7 linked regions of the Homo sapiens genome follow. The protein of the gene in region 5 purifies or fractionates together with the protein of the main gene of each other region. This does not show direct contact. Each region holds a gene or a part of one and is shown on either strand. Other genes may lie near its edges.

Region 1 (3,500 bases), on a different chromosome or scaffold from region 5:
ATGAAGATTAATGCAACAATGTACACTCACTTTATAAGACGTATTATGAAACACTGCAGTGTGTAAAAAAAAAAGGAGCCAATAACCAAGGTAATATAATAAATCCTACACCTAATAACCCCGAAAGGTAATATAACACTTAAAAGAAGCTACATTAAAAACCTTCAGGTTTATCAACTGAAAGATGTTTTTAACATCTAAGAAAACACCAGATAAACTGTCATTTTCACAAATCTAAGTAGGAGAGGGGGAAAGAATGCCTGTCTCCTACTGAATGGCATTCCTCAAAGTGAAAAGGAGTATGTATGAAATGGATCTTTGCCTGTGTCTGGAGAAAAGTGAGTGGGGCGATTAGGGTGTGAAAAGTTTCTTAATGAACTGAATTCTCATATAAACTAACCTTTCTCCTTGGATTTTCTATCTTGTTCTCTGTCCCGACTTTTGCTCCTGTGCTTATATGACTTTCGATCCCGGCTTTTTGATCTTCTTCGATCCCGACTTCGAGATCTGTGTTTTCTTTCTGATCGATCATGGCTTCTGCTTCTTCGTCGATCTCTACTTCTTAATAATTTAAAACCAAAAGGCAACTTCAGCCAGTATTACAATAAGTAAAGGCCTTGGAGTAGATGCTATTAATTAACAAGACTAGGCAAAACTTACCCTCTAAAACATATTTACATTAGAAATCTTAAGAACTAAAAATTATTGAAAATCTTTCTAAATTCATCTCCAATAGTGCTAAGATGGTTATCGTTGTGCTCTTTAAGACTCTTCTTCAATTTGTAATTATAATTAAAACAGTATGGCTGATTTCATATTTTATTTCTCGGAATCAGTGAGACAAGCACTTAAGAGACCATCAGGTACTCTAACTTTGTAAAAAGGTTGGGTGAAATTTCCTAGACAGGTGGGAAATGGCACAGAAGTTGCCCCGAAGATGGAACTATTTTATTCACTGATTCCGCTCTCGCAACCCATCCTATCACTTAAAGATGCTTAAGAGCTTCCCAAGTACCATTCCAAGGAATAATACTAGTAGTTATTATTGTTATTGCACACCCATTATGAGCTGGACAGTCTTAGGGTGTTTTATATATACCTGCTCCGCCTTCTTTCTCTACTTCGTGACCTTTTGTGGTCCCGAGACCTGCTGCATCTTCTGTCTGATGTTCGGCTTGAGTGTCTACTTCGTGAACGACTTCTCTTTCTTCTTTCTCTGTCACGAGCCCTTTCTTTTTCTCTTTCTTCCTCTTCCCTTCGTCTTTTCCTTTCTCTTTCTTCCCTTTCTCTCTCCCGTTCTTTTTCTCTTTCTTCTCTTTCTTGCTTCTCCTTTTTTAGACGCTCATCACGATCAGGTTCTTCGGTTCTTTTCCTTAACTTTTCCTAGAAAAATCAAGTTGGATTCTTATGCAAATGTAACTTTAAAGCATTGTTAAACAATGGTCAACTAATGTGAAGTTATCTGTAGACCAACTTATGGAATTGATGCCCTTAAGGGAAATGTAGACATTCCAACACCATGTATATACACAAGGTATCATTATTTGTCTAATCCTCAGGAATATTCTTCCCAAATTTCTGGCACTCAAGAGTTAAGAAAATCAAGTGCTTTCATAGTTCAATAAATAGCAAAATTTCACAGAACTCACAATGCTTCAAAAATAATTACACATAGGAAAATATCAATGAGAGGGTCATATCTCCATTTAAGCCATATTAGAATATAGTTATTTTTATCTATAGCTACTGATAGCTAAAAGCTGTAGCTATAGCTAAAATAGATTTTTTTAATAGCTAAAATGTATCTTTAGAAGAAATTTACGCTGGCCGAGCGCAGTGGCTCAGCACTTTGGGAGGCTGAGGAGGACGGATCACCTGAGGCAGGAGTTCAAGACCAGCCTGGCCAACAGGAAAAAACCCCGTCTCTATTAAAAAAAATACAAAAATCAGCCGGGCGTGGTAGTGTGTGCCTGTAATCCCAGCTACTCAGGAAGCTGAGGCATGAGAATTGCTTGAACCCCAGAGGTGGAGGTTGCGGTGAGCCGAGATCACGCCACTGTACTTCAGCCTGGGTAACAAAGCGAGACTGTCTCAAAAATAAACAAACAAACAAACAAACAAAAATTAGCCAGGCCTGGTGGCACATGCCTGTACTCCCAGCTACTCAGGAGGCTGAGGCATGAGAATTGCTTAAACCTGGGAGGTGGAGGTGGCAGTGAGCTGAGATCGCGTCACTGCACTCTAGGTGACAGAGCAAGAATCTGCCTCAAAACAAACAAAAAAACTTACTTTTAATTCTTCTACAGTAGCTTTAATTTTGGCATAGCCCATGTGTTGTTTTCCCATCAAATGGTCATCTACCCGGGACTGGGCATCTCCTACTATTAAAAAGGCTCCACATACTTCACAAACTTCCATTTGTTTTTCTTGTGCAGCAAAGCTTTCAATTGTCTAAAATGATAAATCAGTTATTTTAAGAACATCTGAGGAAGAGAAACAAATCCCAGGAAAGTACTCAACATTTAGAAAAGATTTCTAATGTGTGTGAATTGCTCTTTTCCATTTCCCCAAATCAGTAATATTGGACTACAAGTGGTCAACTTTTAGAGAGGGATGTTTAAGGTAACAGCAACTAACTTACTGAATCATCCAGAAGAAATGTTGAGACCCACTGTTCAATGTTCAACACCCACATTACCTTACAAAATTTAAATCACCTTTCAGAAAGCCACCTATTTTAGTATGAATACATTCCTTGCTTAGGTTCAAGGAATAATGTCCATATACAAAACTAATTAAGGAACTAAGCACATTGACTATAATCTGAACATATCCTATTCAATATGGAGGAACCAATGACCAATTACATTCTGCAATCAATAGTATCTGAAACAAGTATATTCTATTCTCCAATTAAAAGAATTAGATATTTAAGGGTGTATTAATTTTTAACAAAGATGTAAGTATGTACTGAGTAATTTATTACAACAAAAATGAAAATAAAACCAGGCTCATATGAAAATTTATGGTTTAAGGCAGTGATTGGCAAGCCAGAGAGGCCTTTTGCTAACATTTTATTGGGATACAACCACACCCATTTGTTTCTTGTACTATATAAAGTTGCTTGCATACTGCACAAAGGCAGAGCTTAGTAGATGCCACAGACCTTGTGGGCTACAAATTGTGCTGACTCTAAGTTTGGAACATCAGTTTTCAAAGGTTCTCAAATAAAAATGAGTTCCTACTAACTGTTAACAGACAGATGAGATAATGTGAAATAAGGTTTACTCACCGACGTTGTGGACCTTAGCAGTTCTCTCTCTTCTTTTAATTGCTCAACTAATTTCATCATCCCCTGGGCTTCTTCTACTTTTCCTTCAGACCCTAATTCTTCAATCTTAGAAGAGTAGGGGAAAAAAACAGTTAAGATTTCTTTCAAACCCAACTATTGTCTTTTTTCCCCATGGTTCATTAGTGGTTGTTTTCCATCTTTTTTGTTT
Region 2 (4,258 bases), on a different chromosome or scaffold from region 5:
ATAACTATATTTTCCAAGTTTGTGCTTTAACTTTAATTTTCTTATATAGTCAATTTTTAATTAACATTTTTATTTTTAATGTTTTATGAAACTCTTCCAACAGCCTAAGTTAGGAAGATATATTTATATATTTTCTTATCAAAGTATAATATTTTGCTTTCGTATTTACATATGCACTTCACCTCGAGTTTATTTTTGTGTGTAACGCCGGGTAAAAAATTTTTCCTATGTGGATAGTCAATTATTCTGGCACCACAAGTTCATATTTACAAGGCTACTTGTCTATTTAATCATGCTCAAAACCAGCTCGGCCCTTTCATGTCTTTCATCACATCCTTTGTTGCTTACCTCTCACCACACCCTTCTACAGAAGCGTTATTTTCTTGTTAAACCAGACTATTCACTGCATTTACTCTTCTTGCAACATGCTAAAATTGTTCCTGTTGTCTCTACGAGTCACGCTTTCTGCCTTTTTTCCTTACTGAATTTAAACCTCTTGTGAAAAAGACTGTCCAATTTACGTTTTCACCCTTAATACTGAGCATTGATGTAGCAGGTTTTCAAATATTCTTGTTTTATGCTGAATTTCAGTTGGCCCTTATAGATGGAAACTTTCACTGAGTACAAGCTATATATCCATGTATTTAGGAACAATCAACAGTTTTAACGAATAGGAACCAGTCATCTTTTCTGCCCCGGTGGATAGGCTTAGTGGTGGTCGGTGGATGGCGCTGACCGCGGTTGATCAGAGGAAGCTGACGCCGTTTGCAGGCGTGGCCTGGGCGTGCCCGCTTCAAAGTAGACGCCCGGAGTTGGCCCAGTTCTGACCCTAGTGATGCGCCTGTGCGTGTGTTCCTATCGCCGTCCCGTCTTCACTTCCTACAGATGCCGCGACCCCCCAAATAGCAAGTGTGGACATTCACATTCAGGGGCACAGGCTGTCCGTACAGCGAACGTTGTCACCATTCCCGGAGATAGGGCCCCGACCTTCAAGGGGGCGGTGCGGTTGGCGCGCAGTTCTCAGGCGCCTTCTAGAATCCCCTGCCAGCCTCCCCGCTGCCTGGTTACCAAACTCGGCCGGGGACACCCAACCTCCCCTCTCGAGGACCTGGGTTGGCCAGCCCAGCTTTGTACGGGTGACTGAAGTCCACATCGACGTAACAGTTGAAAGGGAAGGACGCGGAGACCACCCGGTACCCGCCCCAGGCGTTTCCAGAGTCTCCGCTTAGGCGGCCCGTGGGGGTCGGGGTCGCGGTCGCGGTCGCGGACCGGGGACAGAGCAATGGGGCGGGCGCGCAGCGCCGGCTGCACTCCCAGAGCCTCCCACCGCCGCCCCACGGCCGCCTAGCGCGCGCCGGGACTGCATTTCCCATAGGCCCACGCTGCGGAGCACCGCCCACCCGAGTCTCACGCGAGTGCGCTGCCGCGAGGTGTCCCTGCCGCAGCCCCCGCCCGCCCGCAGAGCTTTTGAAAGGCGGCGGGAGGCGGCGAGCGCCATGGCCAGTCCGGGCTGCCTGCTGTGCGTGCTGGGCCTGCTACTCTGCGGGGCGGCGAGCCTCGAGCTGTCTAGACCCCACGGCGACACCGCCAAGAAGCCCATCATCGGTAAGGAGGCTGTGCGGGGCCGCAGCAGACGGGGAGGAGCTGGGTGTTGGCGCTGGGCGCCTCCCGCCGCCGCGCTCCAGCTGGCGCGTCCCGCCGGGAAAAACCCCCAGATGTGCTTCGCTTTTGGTGCAAGGAGGAACCCGGGCTGGGCACCATTTAGGTCGTACTGAAATGTACCTGGTTGAGGTACCTCGTTCATTCCTTTAGACTCATATGACTCTTAAAGGTGGGAGGGAGGAGGGTGCACCATGAAGAATCCTGCGGATTTTCTTTTTTTGTACACAGCTAGGAATTTCTACTAAAATAAAACATTTCCTTTTCGCACATAGTTGGGAAGTTTTACTCATTTACATCTACAAATTCTGTACATGCATTGCATTCATCAAAATGTATTGATGGCGTATTTAAAATACCAGTGCATTGTAATAGAAAATCAAGAAATTAAGGTATAACTTGGATTTTGTCATGTTCAGTAGCAGAGGACAACAGTGGCTGATATCCTAATGTGAGTTCTATTTGGTGTTAAAATGCAGCCCACAATTTTTCGTTTCCAACATATTTGTGTTTTAAAGAGGTAGTAAAATCAGTCTGTGTTACCAAAACACACATTTGAGACAGGCCCAAGGAAAGCTACCTAGGAGAAATCATCCTGGGGTTAAAATTTGCCCAAAGAAATTTGTGTGTGGACATTAAGATTAGTTTTATTTTGGCTGTAGGATTATGCCTTTCATACTATTTTTTTCTATGAATATTATCACTGTATTCTGTAACTAAACAGAAAGTAGATGAATGTTTTTTCATATAGGTAGTGCCCAGTTTTCAAATGGGTTGCTTACTAATATTTGGAACTTATTTCATAGCTGTTTAACATGGTGATTTGATTCTCCACGAATTAACTCAAGCTGTAATTAATGTAACAGGTTGCATATTGTGTGTCCAGAGAAGAGAAAAAAAAGCAGAGGGGATTCTTCCCCTTTCCTAGAATCAGGGGTAGCCCTGCGTCAAATATTTAAAAAAGGGACTTTGCTTTTGGTCACTGAGATCAGCACAACATCGTTAACTGAGTACCGACTATGTACACAATCTTGCTCTGGGAAGTGCAAAGGATTGAAAGATGACAAGCCACAAAAGTTGTGAGATGGCCTTAAATTATTGGTGGAATTTTGGTCATATTTTGAGGGACAGGGAGAACAGCTTGAGCTCTTTTCCCAGGGATGGGAAAAGTGAATATGCGTGGGCCCAGGGGAAGGGGAGATGTTGGTGGAACTCACTCTGATGTACTTCTCTTTCTGGTACCCTTGTGCTCCCATGATGCCCCATGTCTCCTTTGTGGTACCTCACCCCATGTACCCTGTACCACTCCATTTCCTATGACACTCCTAGTTCTTCGTTCCCTAGCCAAACTTTGTTATTCCTTAGTGAAGATGATCTTACCTACCAGTAAGGAGAAAAAGTTTTACTGAACAAATTTTGGCGTTTGACATGTTAATCTGAATACCTGATGAATGCCAATTGTAAGAAGCTGGGAATACAAAAGTGAGTAATACAGACAACAGCTCTTCCTATCAGGTGGCCTACAGAGACACTGAAAGTGTTCCAAATGCTGAAGTGCTGAATAGGAGTAGGCACAGGTACTCACCCGACAGACGTGTTTTGATGTATACTGGTTGCTATACTCTGCTGGGGCTGGGTTTCACTGGTAAAAGGAGGCCAGAGAGATGGGTGGGGCAGAGCATACGGGTCTTACAGAGTTTATTAAAGTTTAGGGACCCACTGAGGTAGTTAAACAAAGTGGTGACACCTGCTTGCTGATCTATCGCTACCTGATGTCCTTTCCTATTGCTTTCTGCTTTCACTCACCTGGCTCTAATAATATGGATTCCTTGCAACGTGACAGGCACAAATCTGACTCCTGGCCTTTGCACTTGCTATTCCTTTGTCCTGGATTGCTCTTTTCCCAGATATATGAATGTGGTTTACTCTGTCACCTCTCTGAAGTCCTGGCTCAAATGTCATGTTTTACCTTCTCAGGGAGGACTTGCCTGGCCACCGTGTTGAAGAGACTGTCCTTTCCTACATAGATGGGCTCTCCTTCCCCACCGTCTTTCTCTCCTTAGTGCTTACGACCAGCCATCACTCTATATATTATGCCTTTTTGTCTTGTTTATTGTTTGTCCTCTTTCCCCTCCCTGCTACACCCTCGAATTAATGCACACAGGGCAGGGGCTTTTGTTTGGTTCACTCATAGTCATGTGTCCCCAGCAGCTAGTTTGTTGCCTGGCATGAGGTATGATTCAACAGTATATATTGAATGACTGTAGGAATAGGAATGGTGATATGATCCGATTTGCTTCTACATGGGGAGCTGCTTGGAGCTTGGGGGGGTTTCTTAAGAAAAGATATAACAAGACCTTCTAAGAGTCTATTATGATAGTGTGGTGGGGAGAGGGTAGATATTGATAGCTTGGGCTAAGGTAATGTTGGAGAGGTGTGGATGGAAGATGTTTTCACTCCTTTGCTTCGTTGTCAGGGAATCAGTGTGTCTGTGAGTATGTGTGGGAAAGGAGTGACAGCCTTGTAAATTTAAGGATCTATATTCTTTAGATGGATTCTAGGTCTACAGTTGTGTGAAGGCTGCAAGTGCTATTGTAAG
Region 3 (3,500 bases), on a different chromosome or scaffold from region 5:
TCAGCAATGTCCGAAAGAACACTGCCCTGGAGAAGAGCAGTGTGGGGCTGGGGGTGGGGAGAGGTGTTCCAGGCAGGAGACAGCTCCCCTTTGGAGTCTTAGCGGCCCTGGGACTTTGTCAGTCTTGATTTTAAATGACTTTGGCTAGTGTTTTCTACTTTTGCAAAAAATTACCCACACCTGGGCCCCCTCTACAAACTGATCACATTGGAATCTCTGGGGGTGGGGCCTGGGCACCTGCATAGGTAATACTAGGGGCTGAGCCACTTCGACTCTGGTCCTGGCATCCAAATGCTGAGGCTGTCCTGGGGCCCACCTTGCCCAGGATCTCCTGATGCCCTCTATTGTCAGGCACTGGCCTGCGACAAGCCTGGGAGTCTGGACTCTGCCTGCACCCTATCCCAGGCCCAGCCACTGACCCGTCTTTCCCATTTCCTTCAGCTAATGGAAGCCCTGAAGGAGCAGGAGGAGATCAACTTCCGGCTGAGGCAGTACATGGACAAGATTATCCTCGCCATCCTGGACCACAATCCCTCCATCCTCGAGATCAAACACTAAGGCACGGGGCTGGCTGCAGAGCAGCCTTAGGACCCTGGGACCAAGGGCAGACCCTGCCCAAGGATGCAGGCCTAAGCCGGGCCTCACACTCACACTGTAAATGTCTCTCTGGCCACCATGCGTTACGTGTACCCGTGTATATGTGGGGAGGCTGTGCACACGAGCGAGGGGTGAGTGGCCGTGGCTGTGGGCAGCATCCACACGGTTAGCCGTGCATGCACTTTGTGGCCCCTTTGCAAGGGGCAGAGGGTACTGGAAGTGGGAGGAGGCAAGGTCTGCTATCAGGAGTTACTGTAAAAACAAGAACTGGAAGCTCGTGTTTCCGGTACTGGGTAAAATGATTCTACCTCTGGGGATAAGGATTCACATTCGCTCTAGTACGATGGGCTCTTTCACCCCACTCCTAGTCCCCTTGGGAGTGGGAGCAAAATTGTGATCTTTCCTAGGAGTTTGAATGCCCCATATTTGTGTCCTCGCCAGCTCTTTGGCCACCTTTCAAGCCCCAGTGTTCAAGCTCAGAGAGGATGAAGGGGCATCTGGAGGGTCCATGAGATGGGGCCCTCACCAAATGCCTTGGCCACCGGCCAGCAGCCCTCTGTGATGTGTGTGCAGAGTGAACAGAGGACTCAGGTTTCATAGCAGCTAGTGCGGGGCATCCTCATCCTGTACCTATAGAGTTCGTGCACTCCCCCATCCATGCTACCTACCTCCCCGTTTCTGTTTCAGTTTTAAGACAATGAAGCAGCATTCACTGCGTCATTGTAACATGAAGGGATAAAAATGAAGGAGAAGGAGGGTTTGGGATGGGTGTCTAAGGCAGGAGTTGACATCGGGCAACCAAAGAAATGAGTTTTGGGGAGGAACACAACTCCCATCCCAGTCAGTTTCCTTCCCATGGCTGCATCTTAAGATGGATGCACGGAGAAACCGTCTGCCTGGCTCCCTGTCTTCATTCTCCACGCAGCCTGGTGATGGCAGGCCTGGGTTTGGATTTCAGAATCCTAGCTCCGGGCTCCACTCGTGTGGCAGCAAGACTGCTTCGTTCCAGCGTTTAGAAACACACCTGTATTTGATTCTCAGCCAGGGGAGCACTCGCTGCACTGGTGGGAGGCGGTTGGGAAAGTTGCAGGAAAACCTTAGTCTTCCATCCTTCTGACCCATGGTGGAAATTCACACCATGGATTTTTAATGGATCTTTGTTCTAGGCAGCTGGGAATAGACATGGTACTTACCTTAGAGTTTTCCAATTTATCTCAATTTTATATGGCTTGTGATTCATTTTCTTAATCCAAATATATATAAACGTGTGTGGTCTTATTCTTCCCCCTGCAGTTTCTTGCTTTCTTCAGCACATCTTATAGTATGAGAAGGAAGGTTTGGGCATGTTGGGAAGGGCGGTGGAGGGGGAGTTGCAGAAAGAGAGGGCAGTGAGGGTGAGGAGAGGGGATCTGGGGACTTGGGTGTGACACCTGCTTGACAGAGGCAGGGCTGTGGCCAGGACCAACCTTCAATTCCATTCCAATCAGCCTTTGCATTTGTTGGATCTCGTGGCTTCTTTTTAATCTTTTGTTGGGGATTAGTTTCATGCTGCACATAATGGGGTTGCACTGGTCTGACCCAGGACTTTGGAGCCACCCACACTGGGAAGACTAGGCTAGGCAGTCGGTCTTCTAGGAGTTTCTCAGCCCCTTAGGACGCGGGTCTCCTTGGGCTCCCCCAAGGGTTCTGCGAAGAGGCAGTGGAAGAAGGCATGAGGAGAGGGTCTCTTGAGAATTTGCCAATAGGAAGGAGTGGCCACGGCTGAAAGGAACAAGACAGATCCTGACATAGCTTTGGCCTGGGTGTTAGGTCAGAAGGAGTACTGGTGCGTGGGGGCCTTACCCCAGGGTTGAGTATTTTATCTGTAAAATGTTATCTGCCCTTTGGCTGCATTGGAATTTCAGAGAAGGCTGCAGAGGCCTGGGTTACACAGCCTGAGTCACAACGTGGGAAGGAATCTCTGCCACGGGAAAGGTGGGCGGAAGCAGCTGGCAGCCTGGGGCGTGCTTCAGGCTCCTCCCTCTAAGGGGCGCCATGGGAACAGGCTCCGGAGGGAGCCGGCGTCTGAAAGGCCCCCGGGACCTGCTGCAGTGCCAGAGGGGCCTCTGGAGCAGGCCTGGCTTTTAAATGGGGGGCTGAATTCCAGCTCACACACACCTCAAGTCCAACCTTACTTTCTTCAGCCAGAATACATTTCTTGTAAAACCTGGCTTGTTGCTTGGCTTTTAAAGATGGTGTATGTTTGTAAAAATATTCTTCTGGGCTCAAAAGCTAGCTTGAGGGGGCAGATGCCCCAGGTGTCCCAGCTCCACAGCCCCTGGCAGATCCCAGACCCCTTGGTGGCAGGTCCCAGAGCCTAGGTGGTAGGAGCTTGATCTTTGTTTCTGCCCTTACCCCTCAGTAGTGGGGCTGCGAGGTAGTAGACAGGATGCCCAGTTAAGTTTGAATTTCAGATAGAAAATAATTTTAGAATAAATATGTTCTATCTAATACATGGGACAGATGTTATTTTTAGAGATAGGATCTTGCTCTGTTGCCCAGGCTGGAGTGTAGTGGTATGATCATAGCTCACCACAACCTTGAACTCCCAGGCTCAAGCGATCCTCCCGCCTTAACTGCCTGAGTAGCTGGGACTACAGGCATGCACCACCACGCCCAGCTAATTTTTCTTATTTTTTGTAGAGACAGGGTCTCACTGTGTTGCCTCACTCGAGCTGCTGACCTCAAGTGATCCTCCCACCTCAGCCTGCCAAAGCACTGGGATTACAGGCATGAGCCACCATGCCTGGCCAGGACATATTTGAAATGGGGAGATTTTAAAAATTCTGATGATTAGACTGAATCCTCAGACGTTCTGGTTTGATTGTTGTGGGTGTAGCCCAGGCATGGGATTTTTTAAAGAG
Region 4 (2,498 bases), on a different chromosome or scaffold from region 5:
TCTAGTTCCCCATGATTCCTGGTAACCCAAGTCCTGGAGCTGATCTGGCAGTTTCAAAACATTTCTTTTCCTTAAGCTGGTTTTGTGGGCTTTTGTTGCTTGAATCCAAACAAAAATAAAACTGTACCAGTAAAATGAAGCAAACAAAATTTGCCAAAAAGGAGCCCCAGTTCTGCCCCAGTTTTGCCAAAAAGGAGCTGTGAGGCCGTAGATAAGTTCCTTCTCTCTAAGCTACAATTCTATCCCTTACAAAATGATGCAGTTGAACTGGATATCTCAGGGGCCTTCACCCTCTACTATGCTGGCTTAGACACTGGCTCCTCTGGATAACCTCTTGGCGCTACAGATTCCTTATGAAGGTTCTCCTAAGTTACTTTAGTTCTACCCATTGACTCCAGGCAGTTAAAGTAACAAAAACAGAAAATAAAAAGCACCCAATTCTTTCTAAGCTCTTGGGAGCTGAAAAAAATAAAAATAGAAAGCACTCAAGTCTCCATGTCTCTCTTTCCCTGTCAGTAAAAAGTGCAGTTTTATTAGAGGGATGCTTTAAATAATAAGGCTTATCTGACACTCCAATTCTTTTTCATGTTAAAATTAAACCTTAGCATATTATAATTATACTCACTTCAATTAAGGCTGCTATCTATATTCCTAAAATGCATACAGTAATAGGATACAATTATGCTTGCCAAAAAATTCTATTTTTTGCAGTTTGTTTCTTCAGAATAATGTAACTCATCCAAATAATCAACATCAAATAAAATGGCAAAGTATTTTAAAGATTCTACACAAGGGAAAAACCCTAAAATCGTAAAATAAATTGTAAGAATATCCTCTATTGAGCCCATAAACCCTGCATTATTTAATTTCTTAGTTGACAAAGAATAAAAACTAGTATTGTTTTGGCCCTTAAATTCCCACCCAAATCGATTGTTCTGTGATGCTGAAACAAAATAGTTACCAAATGCTTTGATAGACAACTCATTACAATGAGAACTGAAGGCTCCCAAAATAAGACAAAGATTTTCCTGTATCTCCCAGATGCCAGGGAAAGTAAAGGAAATATTTCAGCTTTCCATCCCAAGAATGAACTCTATATATGCCCTTAAAAAAAAAAAATGCCATAAAAATGATCAAGCTCAAGGTACAGTTTTTTAAAAGCAGAAAATGTTCCCAAGGCAGGGTGAAGAAAAAAAAATTATTGAGAGAAAATGAAAAGAAACAAGGAGGAAGAAATCTTTCAACAGAGTAGAAACTGTTAGTCTCTCTCTCTCTGTCTCTCTGTGTCCCTGAAAGGTTTTGATCCAACCCTATTTGTTATCCTAGAAAAGCTCTCTGAAGAAAGGTCTCAGTGTAAGAACTGCTTGAAAGAAGCCAACCCCTTGGAAATAGGAATGGCTTGGCCATTTATTAATGTCAAATATGCTGCCTGCATGAATTAGTCAGCTTGTCTTTTGGAAGTCATACAGAAAAGTTCTTGTGCACCTGCCTGTTAGTGTCTAACACTTCTGGTTTTAATGACAGCAGTAACAACTATCAGAAAATAAAATTTTAAAAATTTAAAAGCTGAATATTACTATATTCTACTTTTGGAATAGCTGATTCATCAATTTTTAAAGGCTTCTTACTGAAATATAATTAGTGACTACAGCATAAAGCTTGCTCAGATTTAAAAAGACAAAACAGAGTCATTTTCCTAAACTGGCAGAATTCAAACAAATTAAAACTGACCTTAGAAACAAAGAGAAATGGAGCAGAAAAAGGCCAGATTTCTTACTGGCAGTACCACAGTGGCCAACATCCCAGAACTAAGAAAAGCTGCCAAGTGGAAGAGAAAAAATTAAAGGACTTTCCAAAAACAGCTAAGCCCAGTGCACACAGCATTTCCATCAGCCGGAGTTGAAGTGAGCTTCAGAAGCAACACACAGGTATAAGGTCCAGCTGTATTATTTATTTACAGCACAGTTCAAAGTCATTAAATCCGGTACAAAAGAAATGGCTCTCACTTCCTGGATTGGCACCAGACATCCTACCAGCTGCAATTACATCATTTTTTATCTATCTTCTGCTTTTACTTTGTGTAGGGTAGGGATGGGGACTTACAAATGGGCCAAAGACACTTCAACCTCAAAACCAAAGAGAAATCTCTGCTTGCAGAGATACAAAGAAAGTAACTCTCCCTCTTATGAAAAGCAACCAGGAACTCTACTCCAGTTATGAGGGCCACTGATGGTGTGGGAGAGCTATCAAGAAGATTCTTCCTAGACGTGGTGCAAAGACAGTGAGAACCCAGGAAATCACATTCATGGGACACTTGCTCTTACCGTCATCACCCTCTATTCTATCTCAACTTTGGCCCCATCAAATCTAATGATAAACAAAAGAAGGTAATTACATGTAGAAAATCAAAGTGAATGGGAATGTGGTGGTGTGAACATAAAAGAAGAAATTGAAAACAATCAAAAGTTTCTCAGTGCTGCTTTCCCGCACTGTCATAG
Region 5 (2,907 bases):
AGCTGTGACTGTGTGTAGCTAGATGCAGCTATATGGAGAATCACAGATGAACTATAATAATCGGGAAAAGATTGATACTTAATAAATGCCTTTGGAAAAACTGTTTAGAGAAAAAATGAATTTAGATTAATACTTCACACTGGAATTTCAAATGTTTTAATAAGCTAAGCCAAAATAAGTAAATGTTATAAGAATATAACTACCTCAGCTGTCCAAAGCTGGTTTTGGTTTCATCATGGAAGCAAGAGGAAATTAATGACAGGATTAACCACAACTTAAAAAAATGGATGTGCATTGAAAATTAAGACAAATACATGAAATGGGGAAATCGTTTACACTCTGAGATAAGTATCTATAATTATTAAATGAGTTTAGTACTCGTCAGGAACTATTAAATTTAAATATTAATATCCTTTCAATTCTTAGCAAATAAGATGAATAGTTGACAAAATGGAATACAAATATGAAACATTAATAAAGAACCACAACTTGAATAGTAGATTTCACCTCAGACTTAAACAGGCGGCTGTGTAATTGATTGACAGTGGAAAAATAGTCCACTTACGTGTTATTCCTGCTGTAAATATTTTTCTGGAGTATTATCCAGCGATAAGCAGCAAAAGCTATAAAAGCTGATAATACTTTTTGATATGATCGTTCCATTGTTTGCAATATATTTTTATTATACAGAAGTAACTCTCAAAAGAGGATTTTTCTTTTGCAAAATGTGCTAAATGTAATAGAAAAAGAAAGACAAAGTAGTATGTTGGTATAAAAACCATCTCATTAAGAACTATAGCAGGTCTCTGTATTACCTCGTAAAAAAAAGTATATTAATAAAATGAGAAGGAAAAAAGGCAGAACACAGAAGCATATGTGTAATGATAATATTAATTATGCTTAAGGATCAAAGAGTCCATAAAACAGATTAATGGTTTCCAGAGGTTAAGGATGGTTGGGGAAGGAACAGAGAGATGGATATGACTGTCAAGGGTGGCACGAGGGAGATCTTCGTGGTGATGAGTATTCTGTATCTTGATTGAGTGATAGTTAACAGGAACTTAGGTGATAAAATGACAGAGATCTATACACAGGCATTATCTCATGGTGAGCTTCCTGGTTTTGACTTTGTTATATTCTAATTATGTCAGATGTAACCATGGCAGGAAACTGGGTGAAGAGCACACAGTACTTTTCAATATGATCTCTGTGTCTTTCTATAAATCTATCATTTAAAAAAAAAAAGTTGGTTTTTTAAGTTTCTAAAATCTTATAAAATCGTTGGCATACTCAGGTTAAAGGGATATTTTGGGGTGTTCAGTTTTGTTTTGCTTTTCGTCTTGTGATTTTGTTTTTTCCATGTTAAAGTTGGTTGAACATACAGTTATTTTAAGTGCCTGTGTATTCTTCATAATTTATGGAATCAATAGATTTTGCTGTGGATTTTCTGCCACCTTGTTACTTCTTTTATTTTTTTTTCTTCTTAGTATGTGCCAAGAGTTGTAACCTCTGCACAACAGAAAGCAGGAAGAACTATTACAGCCCGGATCACAGGAAGATGTGATTTTGCTTCAAAAAATAGAATTAGCAGCAGTTTAGCTATAATGGGAGTTTCTCCTCCCATGAGCTCAGTTGTTGTGGAAAAACATCATCCAGTCACAGTGGTGAGTCCACATTTGATGACCTTTTGTCAAAAAGTCTTTTTCCTGAGAGTTCATAGACTAGTAAACACTTACATAACATGTTGAGAAGATAAAAATTTATGATGACTGGTACTTGTTCTGCCTTTTCCTGTTACAGTTTTTTTTTTTTTTTTAATATATATACTTGTTTTTCTCAAACCTGCTATAAATCTACGTTTCTGCTGTTGGGAAATTAATTTCAGAAACATCGTTTCTTCCAAACTGTAAAAATTATAAAATACTAAAAGTAATCCAGTGTGTTTGTGGTCAAAAGAGTAAAATATGTAAATGCTTTATTATCAGTTTAAAAAGAGACAAAAATTGTTCACTCACTAGCTGCTCATGTAGCAGATATTTGATTACAAGAAAACTCCCCTACATTTATAGTTTTTAATTTTTGGTCCTTTTTTAAAAAAAGTCTTCCCCTTTTTTCAGTACAATTGTCAGCATGTTTTTAGTTTAACAAAATTCAACTTGCAGTAAATGCATGTGATATAAAGAAGGTGCATTGAATTTGAAGCAAAAATTTTAAAACCCGAGTTAGTGCTTCAGCTTTGCTACTTGTTGGCTTTGTGATATATACAAATCAAGTAAAATATTTGAGCCTCCACTTTCTCTTCTGTAAAATGGGGTTAATAAAAATAGTTAGCTCCTTGGGTTATTGTTAGGATTCAAGATTAAATGAGATAATGTGAAAATTAAACGAGATGTATTAAGGCATTTTATAAACTATAAAACCATAAGCAAATTTAACTTACTGAAAGTTACTAGAAAAAGATACATGAGATATCTCTGAATTATTTCCTACAAATGTGTACGAATCAACAATTATCTCAAAAAGTATAATAAGAGTGATAAGAACATCCCTAAAGAAAAACAAGGATTTATTTATTTATTTATTTATTTATTTTTTATTTATTTTTTTTTTTGAGACAGAGTTTCTCTCTTGTCTCCCAGGCTAGATAGAGTGCAATGGCGCAATGTTGGCGCACTGCAATCTCCGCCCCCTGGGTTCAAACAATTCTCCTGCCTCAGCCTCCCGAGTAGCTGGGATTACAGGCACCCGCCACCACCCCCAGCTGATTTCAGGGACTGATTTTAAAAGAGAATGCCCTCTATAAATTCTCAGCATCGGACAACGTTCCTGTGTACTTTCTAAGTATTAGCAAAAAAAAAGTATATGGAATGATTTTAAATCCTTTTTTCCCGAGTACTAGCTGGGCAC
Region 6 (4,129 bases), on a different chromosome or scaffold from region 5:
CCCATTACACCACCACGTTCGGCTAATTTTTTTTTTTTTTTTTTTTTTGTATTTTTAATAGAGACGGAGTTTCACCATGTTGGCCAGGCTGGTCTCGAACTCCTGGCCTCAAGTGATCCTCCCGCCTTTGCCTCCCAGAGTGCTGAGATTACAGGCGTGAGCCACCGCGCCTGGGCCAGATACGTATTTTCAGCACTGGTTGTGCAAAACTCACTCCCCACCTCATCTTAAGAACTTAATGAACCTTTTGGTAAAACGCCAATACCAGCATAAAACAAATTTCTTCAGGATACAAATATTTTCATAATTTGTATTAACTCAACCTAAACTTTACCAGCCTGAACTGCTTCTTCAAGGCTTGACTAATACACTGTTAGGGAGTATTTTAAGCAGCCTCCACCCAAGTGCTTACCTTGTAGCTCTATTTATCTGCCTTAGGCATTTACTGGACTCCTTTCAGATTCTTTCCCTCGCTAATGTTTTCCGGTATCATCTGATAACTGAATAGAAAATGCTGTTCTGAATCACTACACCTCACTATCAACCATATCACAAATAAATTATGTTATATATTATATATAAATATTATAATGGGCTATTTAAACTAAGCCAGCCGTCTTACCATGTGCTCATGTGGGATTTCCTGTTTCAATGTTGAATAATAATATATTTTAAAGTTAGCAAAGCCATTTCACCTGCAGTCGTTGATTTCTTCAAAATCTGAGCATTTAAATCCATTGCCAATGTTTGCTTAAAGAACACTGTTTTCTTAACGAGTCTTCCAAATCGGTCCTTACAGGAAGAACCTCTGAATGCTATACGCATATATGGACGGCTGCGTGTCCCTACAAAGTCAGCCTGTTACTTCCACTGGAGAAACAAAACTCTTGAGAATCGCTGAGCTGTAAAAATGTTAGAAAGCCGGTGTCCCAGGCGCCCTGAGAAAGCCGGGAGAGGGCGGTGGCTGCCCACAGGCCGCCTCCAGCCCCGCGCGAGGCCGAGGCCTCAGCGCGCCCCCCGCCCCCGCGGCGCCTAGCGGCCCCGCCGCAGGGCAGGCCTGGCCGGGCCTCCCCGGGCTGCGGCGGCGCCCCCTGCAGGCCGCGGCGGGCAGAGCGGGGGGAAGGAACCCGAGCCGGGCTGCCACCGTGTCCCAACCGGTGCCGCCGCCGGAGCTTCTCCGGGCCCCGAGTCCTCGCCGAACGCCCTCCTCGCCGCCCGCCGCGTCCCGGCGCCCTCCGGAGCCGCCGAGCCGCCCGCGCACACCTGAAGCGGCCGGGCCAGGCCCTGCCTCGATCCTCAGCTCGTCCTCCCCGCCCCGCACCGGCCTTCACTCTGGAGCGGCCCCGGCAGCCGCAGCAGGGGCGGCGGCGGCGGATCGAGGAGCTCTCCAGGTCGTCCCGGGAGAGGCTGCTGCAGTCCCGGGACAGGATGTTCTCCAAGTTCACCTCCATCCTGCAGCACGCCGTGGAGGCGGTAAGGCCGCGGGCTGCGGGCGCACGGCAGGCCGGGGATGGCGGCGGCCTACGCTCCCCGGCGGCCTCGGGGACAAGCCGGGCGGCCTTGGCCCGGCCCTCGGCGGCCCTGTCCCCGGTTGGGGTGAGGCCCCAGGCGGGCGCCCTGGGCGGCCGCCGGGTCGTGGGGGCGCCCGGGGCCTCGGGCCTGGCTCTGCGGGGGTCCCGTCGGTCCCTGGCTGCCCCAGGCCGGCAGTCCCTGCCCTCCTCCAGGAGCCGGGGCGGGGGTGCCGGGGAGGACCTGGCCGCCCAACGCCGCTCGGTGGTCGCCTCATTCCTCTGATGGGGCCGGGGGTTCGGGGAGCACCTGGCGGGGTCGCAGAGAGCTCCCCCGGGCTCCCTTAACGTTAACCTTCTCCGGAAAAAAAGTGGTCAGCGTTGAGCAAGACAAAAGAAACGAGCAAGCACCGCTTGGGCTTGGTTCTGTTTTGTTTTGGTTTTCGGGGGTAGAGGTGGGAGAGGCATGGTCTCGCTGTGGGGCGTCCCTGGCGAGGGAGCCGCCGACCAGCCCCCGGGTTGCTGGCTTTTGCTTTCTTGGGCCTGGAGGCCGAACTCAGCTGAACCTTATGTATTGATCTGAAATAGGAGTTTGGAGGGTCCAGTCGAGTTTGCTTTCGACAGCTTCCAAGCTCACCGAGCCCAGAGACCATCTGTTTCCTTTCTTGTCTAGTTCTCTTCCTGGACACTCTTCGTTTATCCTGCAATTGTACTCTCCTTTGAGGGTTTTAGACACCAGCATAGAGACAGTATTCAAGTATCCTAGTAGACTAATAAGTGAAAAGAAACTAAAAAGAAAATGCCTTGTCACTGTTCTAGTAAGAATGCTAGTTGCTTCACTTGTTTACTTTATTCTGGGAGAACTGCCCAAATTGAAAAATGCATTCTGTGCAGAAACAATTACTTTGCTAATTTTTAACATGACATTCTCTTCCTATGTTCATATTATGTGATAGGACACTTTAAAATGTACACTTTAAAAATGTCAGATACAACAATGATTTTTTATGGGCAGGCAAAAATGGAGTTTTTGCCTTCAGTAATAAAAACAAACTTTAGTACAATTGTTATTTAAGTGATACATGAGAAGCGTTAAAAAATTTAGCTCTAGGGCAAGCTCTTGGGAAAATGTATCAAACAGGAAAAACAGGGTTTCATAAATGTAGAGCAGTATTACACGGAGGGAAATGACAGTGGTAGACTTCAAGACAACTTTTAGTTTTTACTTGCTTATACACACTCTACTTTTGTTGAAAGAATTTAACTGCAGTTTATTAAAACATTTAAATTTTGTTTTCTTTAAAAATACCAAGAATCATTTAATTTTATTTATTTATTTATTTATTTATTTTTTGAGACCGAATCTCATTCTGTCACCCAGGTTGGAGTGCAGGGGTGTGATCTCAGGTCACTGCAACCTCCGCCTCCCGGATTCAAGCGATTCTCCTGCCTCAGCCTCCCTAGTAGCTGGGATTACAGGCACCCGCCACCACACACGGCTAATTTTTTTTTTTTTTTTTAGTAGAGATGGGGTTTCACCATGTTAGCCAGGCTGCTCTCGAACTCCTGACCTCAAGTGATCGCCCGCCTTGGCCTCCCAAAGTGCTGGGATTACAGGTGTGAGCCACCACACCCGGCCCGAATCATTTTAACCTTGAATATATGAAATACTTGGGAACACTTAATGAGATACTTGGTAATCAAAATTTACTATATTGCAGTCAGCTGTCTTATCCGTAGGCTCTGCACCTGTGATTTAACCAAACTCAAGTAAAAAAATATTTGAGGGGGAAAAAAATTCTGCAGAGTTCCAAAAAGCAAAACTTGAATTTGCCATATTCAAGTACTGCCTTGAATCCATGTGAATGAAGTGATGTGTAGGCATTGTATTAGGTATTAGAAGCAATCTAGAGATGATTTAAAGAATACAGGTATGCATAGGTTATATGAAAATATGCCATTTTATAACAGGGACTTGAACATCCTCAGATCTTAGGGGTAGGAAGAGATGTCCTGGAACTAGTCCCCTACAGATACCAACTATATTTATATCCTTTACCCATCAGGCTAGTATTTACAGAAATAAGTACTTAGAAAAAGAAAGACGGCTTTCCTGCTCTCCTAGTAAAGGCTCATTTTTATCCGGAGGCCTGTGTTTTCTTGTCCTCGTTATCTTTTTATAATTGTATATATTAGCATCTGCCAAATTATCTGGCTCCTGCTCTGTAATATCCTTAGCCTACTTTGCTGAGGTTAGTGAGAAAAAGTTAGAGTGGCTTGTGTTCACCTAGTCCTGAAATTAATGCATTGCATTTAGAAGTGTAATGTTTTCATTTGCTTAGACCTAATGTTTTCATTTGTGGCACCACCCATCTTATCTTGATAGGAGGTTAAATCTCATGAAAAATGTTTGATGTTCTATACTAACCTTTTTTTCCCCCCTTTTAACATTCTCTCTTGGGAATGAACTCATGTGCAATGATGAATAAGCCATCCTTGTGTATTTGGATAGTTTTTTCGTAGCCCAAGGTTAGTTTCCAGTTATTCAGTTCTGTTTATTAATTTGCTTGATATTTTCCTCTATGAACCAATCTTACCATTCCTCAGTTCATTTCATTAGC
Region 7 (3,500 bases), on a different chromosome or scaffold from region 5:
ATAAAATAAAAAAATAATAAAAAAAACAAAGACATGACAAAAGGAAAACCCACCAGTGGATTTTATTCATTGACCTCCTTGGGATACAGCTAATGAGGACCATATCCTACATGGCTTCACTAAGACCCTCGGTGTACCCAAGGACTGTGGGAAAACTGACATCAATAACCTTTGATCCAAAATGCTTCCCTTGATACTTTCTGTATCTAGCAGAAAACCGTAGACAAGAGGCACTAGACAAAGGAGTGTCACAAGGCCAGAGTGATTATTAACCAATTATTTTTAAATTTCATTTATTTTTAGGCTAAAAATGTAATAATGTGGCCATTTGAAAACACAGTGTGTTCTATGCTCTATTATTCCTTTAAGATGTAAAAAGAAAAAAATTAAAACAGATTTCTGCACGTCTCAAAACTCCTACCACTTTAGTTAGGTGAATGGAACCATCAAGATCACCCAGTCTAATACTTCCCAAGTCTAAGTGCTCATAAAAGTCATGTGAGGAGATTTGTAAAAACACAAACACTGGGGCCCTAGCCCTGGGGATTCTGATTCAATAGATCTTGGGTGTGGCCCAGGAATGTAATATTTTTCTAAAGCTCTGAAAGATTTTGAAAGGCAGCCGGGTTTGGAAACCACTGACCATTACAATCCCTTACTAACATAATCATTGTCATAATCATTATTATTATTATTTCCATTATTAGTATTTTCACATCATTAATAATAATAGTACCTGTAGCTATAATTTTACCTTGTCAATATGTTTCCATATCTATTATCTAAGTTTAACCTTACAACCACCCTAATGGATAGAGAAGGCAGGTGTTACTAGTCCCATTTTACAGTTAAAAATATTATTCACAAGAGATACACAAATGTGGTGGTCTACATATACATGAAATATCATCCTTCAACAAAAAGGAAAGAAGTGCCAATACATGGAACAACATAGATAAAATTTGAAAACATTATTCTAAGTCAAAGAAGCACAAAAGACCACATAGTATTTGATTCAATTTATATGAAGTGCGCAGAATAGGCAAATATGTGGAGACAGAAAGTAGATTAACCATTGTCTAGAGCTGAAGAGATTGGAGAAAATATGCAGTGACAACTAATTGGAATAGGGTTTCTTTCTGAGGAAATGAAAATGGTCCAAAATTATGTTATGATGATGGTTGCACCACTTGATAAATCTTCTAAAAATCATTGTACACTTGAATGGGTAAATTTCATGTTATGCAAATTATACCTTAATACAGTTGTTTGTTTTTTTAAAGAGTTATTTTAAAAATAATTAACATGAGTCACATTAATGATAAGAACAAACCTATGATCATGTAGCTAACCAGCTATAAACTAGGATAACTCAAACAATAATAACTACCTTTTATTAAGCACTACTGTGTGCCAGGCAGAGTAATATGCACTTTATATCTACTGTCTTATTTAATCCTCAAAGCCATTATTCCCACTTTACAGATGACAAAATGAGGCTTAGGGAATCTAGATGGTTTCCTCAAGGTCTTACAGGCTAGCACTGACAGATCCTGAATTTCAACCAAATCTGAGTCCAAAGACTTCTGTTTTCATTATAATCTGCTGCCTCTAAGACTAGAACCCAATGACCCTGATATTTCACACCGGGAAGTCTGTCCTCCATTCCCAGATGGGCAGTTCTAAAATATAAAATAGGAGAGAAAAAGACACATTGTCTTCATCCTCCTCATCCCAGTGCCCTTTCCCATTTGGCTCTGTGGCAGTGGGAAAATTGATCACATTTCTTAACACTATCCCAGACATAGCCCTGAATTTTCTTGACTGAATAGGCAGTACTAAGGACTAAATGGGTATTGAGGTCCACTGTGCCTTGTAGTTGTACATGACATGTGAACAAATGCAACTGAGCCCTATTCACACTTCACATAGTCCAGGAATTCACCAAGAAGTACTACTGCACCCAGGAGTGACAGATAAGAGGAGTTCAACCTAATATGACTCAAAGGTAATCAAGGGAATAGAAAGCTGCAGTCTTTTCAAAGTTACATTTATTGCCTACCTATGTTGAACAGAGATTATCACCAGCCCCTCGTGATACATCAATACGCACACACACACACACACACACACACACACACACACATATCTAGGGAGAAAAATCAACATGTAAAAAATGGATTTTGGGGAAATTTTGTGCATAACGCCTCTCTTATATCAGAGACAAGAATATTCTAATACTTGGTCTGAATACAATGTCACTTGGTTCAGTACTCTTTCCTAATGTCTATTGTGGTCTTTAGAATATCACAGTTCATGGAAATGAGGACATATTGGGTGATACAGGGTGCTTTGTCTGTGAAAGTTGTTACAGAGAAATCCCTGAAATTTGACTGAGATGTGGATTTTACAGTGACAAAAGACAGACACCCTAACAATTACTCTGTTGGACAGCTCCCTCGACCTAGCTTCAAACCCTTCAAAGTTGCCGTGACTCTCCTTTATTTTAAGACATGCTCCAGGATGGCCAGTCCTTTGATGGTCAGGAAGGGCCTAGGATTAACCACTGCCTGTCCATTGAACACATGATGAAATAATCTAAGCTTCCTGGGCATTGGTTTTCAAGGTCAGCTATGTAGAAAGATCTCGGCCAGGCACAGTGGCTCACACCTGTAATCCCAACACTTTGGGAGGCCAAGGCGGGTGGATCCTGAGGTCGGGAGTTCAAGGCCAGCCTGACTAACATGGAGAAACCCCACCTCTACTAAAAATACAAAATTAGCCAGGCATGGTGGCACATGCCTGTAATCTCAGCTACTTGGGAGGCTGAGGCAGGAGGCAGAGGTTGTGGTGAGCCAAGATCATGCCATTGCACTCCAGCCTGGGCAACAAGAGCGAAACTCTGTGAAAGAAAGAAAGGAAGAAAGAAAGAAAGAAAAGAGAAAGAAAGAAAGAAAGAAAGAAAGAAAGAAAGAAAGAAAGAAAGAAAGAAAGAAAGAAAGGAAGGAAGTCGAACTTGAACCTTGAGACTCAGATGCAGCAACAATATGGACACTGTCTTTTATAAGTAACTGGTCCCAATCACTTTGCCTGACAACTTGGGCAACAGCAGCTATTTGAGAGAACTAGTGTCTTGTACAAAGGAAACCCTCATTCTCCTTTGTCTAGGAACACAAGAAACTTAGAAGCAGTGAAGCAGAGGCAGGTTTTTCCCACATCAAATTCTTTAAGGTGCTATTTCTCCTTCCTTGTTAGTTATTTCATAATTTGGTTACTCTAGAGATCTGCCTGCTTTAAACTCACCTTTGCTCAGGGAATGAAAGGAGTGAGGAGAGAGGGCTGGATAATGGGGGAGGGGCTTGAGGAGGAACACATTAATTATCACCACTCCTTGAAGCTGTTCTTTAAAGCACTGTATTAGGTCAAATTGATCACATGTGTTATATCCACCAATTTTAAAATAGGGAAGCATCCTCAGTATAATTGATTTGATAATATAG

The links.
Region 1: the proteins of POC5 (region 5) and LUC7L3 purify together in Homo sapiens (co-immunoprecipitation; one large-scale study listed by IntAct). This does not show direct contact.
Region 2: the proteins of POC5 (region 5) and GGH purify together in Homo sapiens (co-immunoprecipitation; one large-scale study listed by IntAct). This does not show direct contact.
Region 3: the proteins of POC5 (region 5) and RAB11FIP4 purify together in Homo sapiens (co-immunoprecipitation; one large-scale study listed by IntAct). This does not show direct contact.
Region 4: the proteins of POC5 (region 5) and PRCP purify together in Homo sapiens (co-immunoprecipitation; one large-scale study listed by IntAct). This does not show direct contact.
Region 6: the proteins of POC5 (region 5) and FHIP2A purify together in Homo sapiens (affinity purification with mass spectrometry; 2 studies listed by BioGRID and IntAct, with this or other methods). This does not show direct contact.
Region 7: the proteins of POC5 (region 5) and DCX purify together in Homo sapiens (co-immunoprecipitation; one large-scale study listed by IntAct). This does not show direct contact.

What each region holds. Positions count from the first base shown.
Region 1 is NC_000017.11:50,743,603-50,747,102, reverse strand, and holds part of LUC7L3 (luc7-like protein 3), read right to left. Parts: intron 3,398-3,500; coding exon 3,293-3,397; intron 2,452-3,292; coding exon 2,290-2,451; intron 1,384-2,289; coding exon 1,100-1,383; intron 562-1,099; coding exon 401-561; intron 1-400. UniProt on the Homo sapiens protein: Binds cAMP regulatory element DNA sequence. May play a role in RNA splicing.
Region 2 is NC_000008.11:63,036,007-63,040,264, reverse strand, and holds the start of GGH (gamma-glutamyl hydrolase isoform 1 precursor), read left to right. Parts: upstream 1-1,458; 5' UTR 1,459-1,496; coding exon 1,497-1,605; intron 1,606-4,258. UniProt on the Homo sapiens protein: Hydrolyzes the polyglutamate sidechains of pteroylpolyglutamates. Progressively removes gamma-glutamyl residues from pteroylpoly-gamma-glutamate to yield pteroyl-alpha-glutamate (folic acid) and free glutamate.
Region 3 is NC_000017.11:31,531,175-31,534,674, forward strand, and holds part of RAB11FIP4 (rab11 family-interacting protein 4), read left to right. Parts: intron 1-441; coding exon 442-558; 3' UTR 559-3,500. UniProt on the Homo sapiens protein: Acts as a regulator of endocytic traffic by participating in membrane delivery. Required for the abscission step in cytokinesis, possibly by acting as an 'address tag' delivering recycling endosome membranes to the cleavage furrow during late cytokinesis.
Region 4 is NC_000011.10:82,822,436-82,824,933, forward strand, and holds the end of PRCP (lysosomal Pro-X carboxypeptidase isoform 1 preproprotein), read right to left. Parts: coding exon 2,471-2,498; 3' UTR 501-2,470; downstream 1-500. UniProt on the Homo sapiens protein: Cleaves C-terminal amino acids linked to proline in peptides such as angiotensin II, III and des-Arg9-bradykinin. This cleavage occurs at acidic pH, but enzymatic activity is retained with some substrates at neutral pH.
Region 5 is NC_000005.10:75,676,531-75,679,437, reverse strand, and holds part of POC5 (centrosomal protein POC5), read left to right. Parts: intron 1-1,487; coding exon 1,488-1,664; intron 1,665-2,907. UniProt on the Homo sapiens protein: Essential for the assembly of the distal half of centrioles, required for centriole elongation. Acts as a negative regulator of centriole elongation.
Region 6 is NC_000010.11:114,820,651-114,824,779, forward strand, and holds the start of FHIP2A (FHF complex subunit HOOK interacting protein 2A), read left to right. Parts: upstream 1-1,428; coding exon 1,429-1,473; exon of another isoform or gene 1,474-2,298; intron 2,299-4,129. Other genes in the region: translation initiation factor IF-2-like, read right to left, coding at 846-1,451. UniProt on the Homo sapiens protein: Required for proper functioning of the nervous system.
Region 7 is NC_000023.11:111,405,693-111,409,192, forward strand, and holds part of DCX (neuronal migration protein doublecortin), read right to left. Parts: intron 1-3,500. UniProt on the Homo sapiens protein: Microtubule-associated protein required for initial steps of neuronal dispersion and cortex lamination during cerebral cortex development. May act by competing with the putative neuronal protein kinase DCLK1 in binding to a target protein.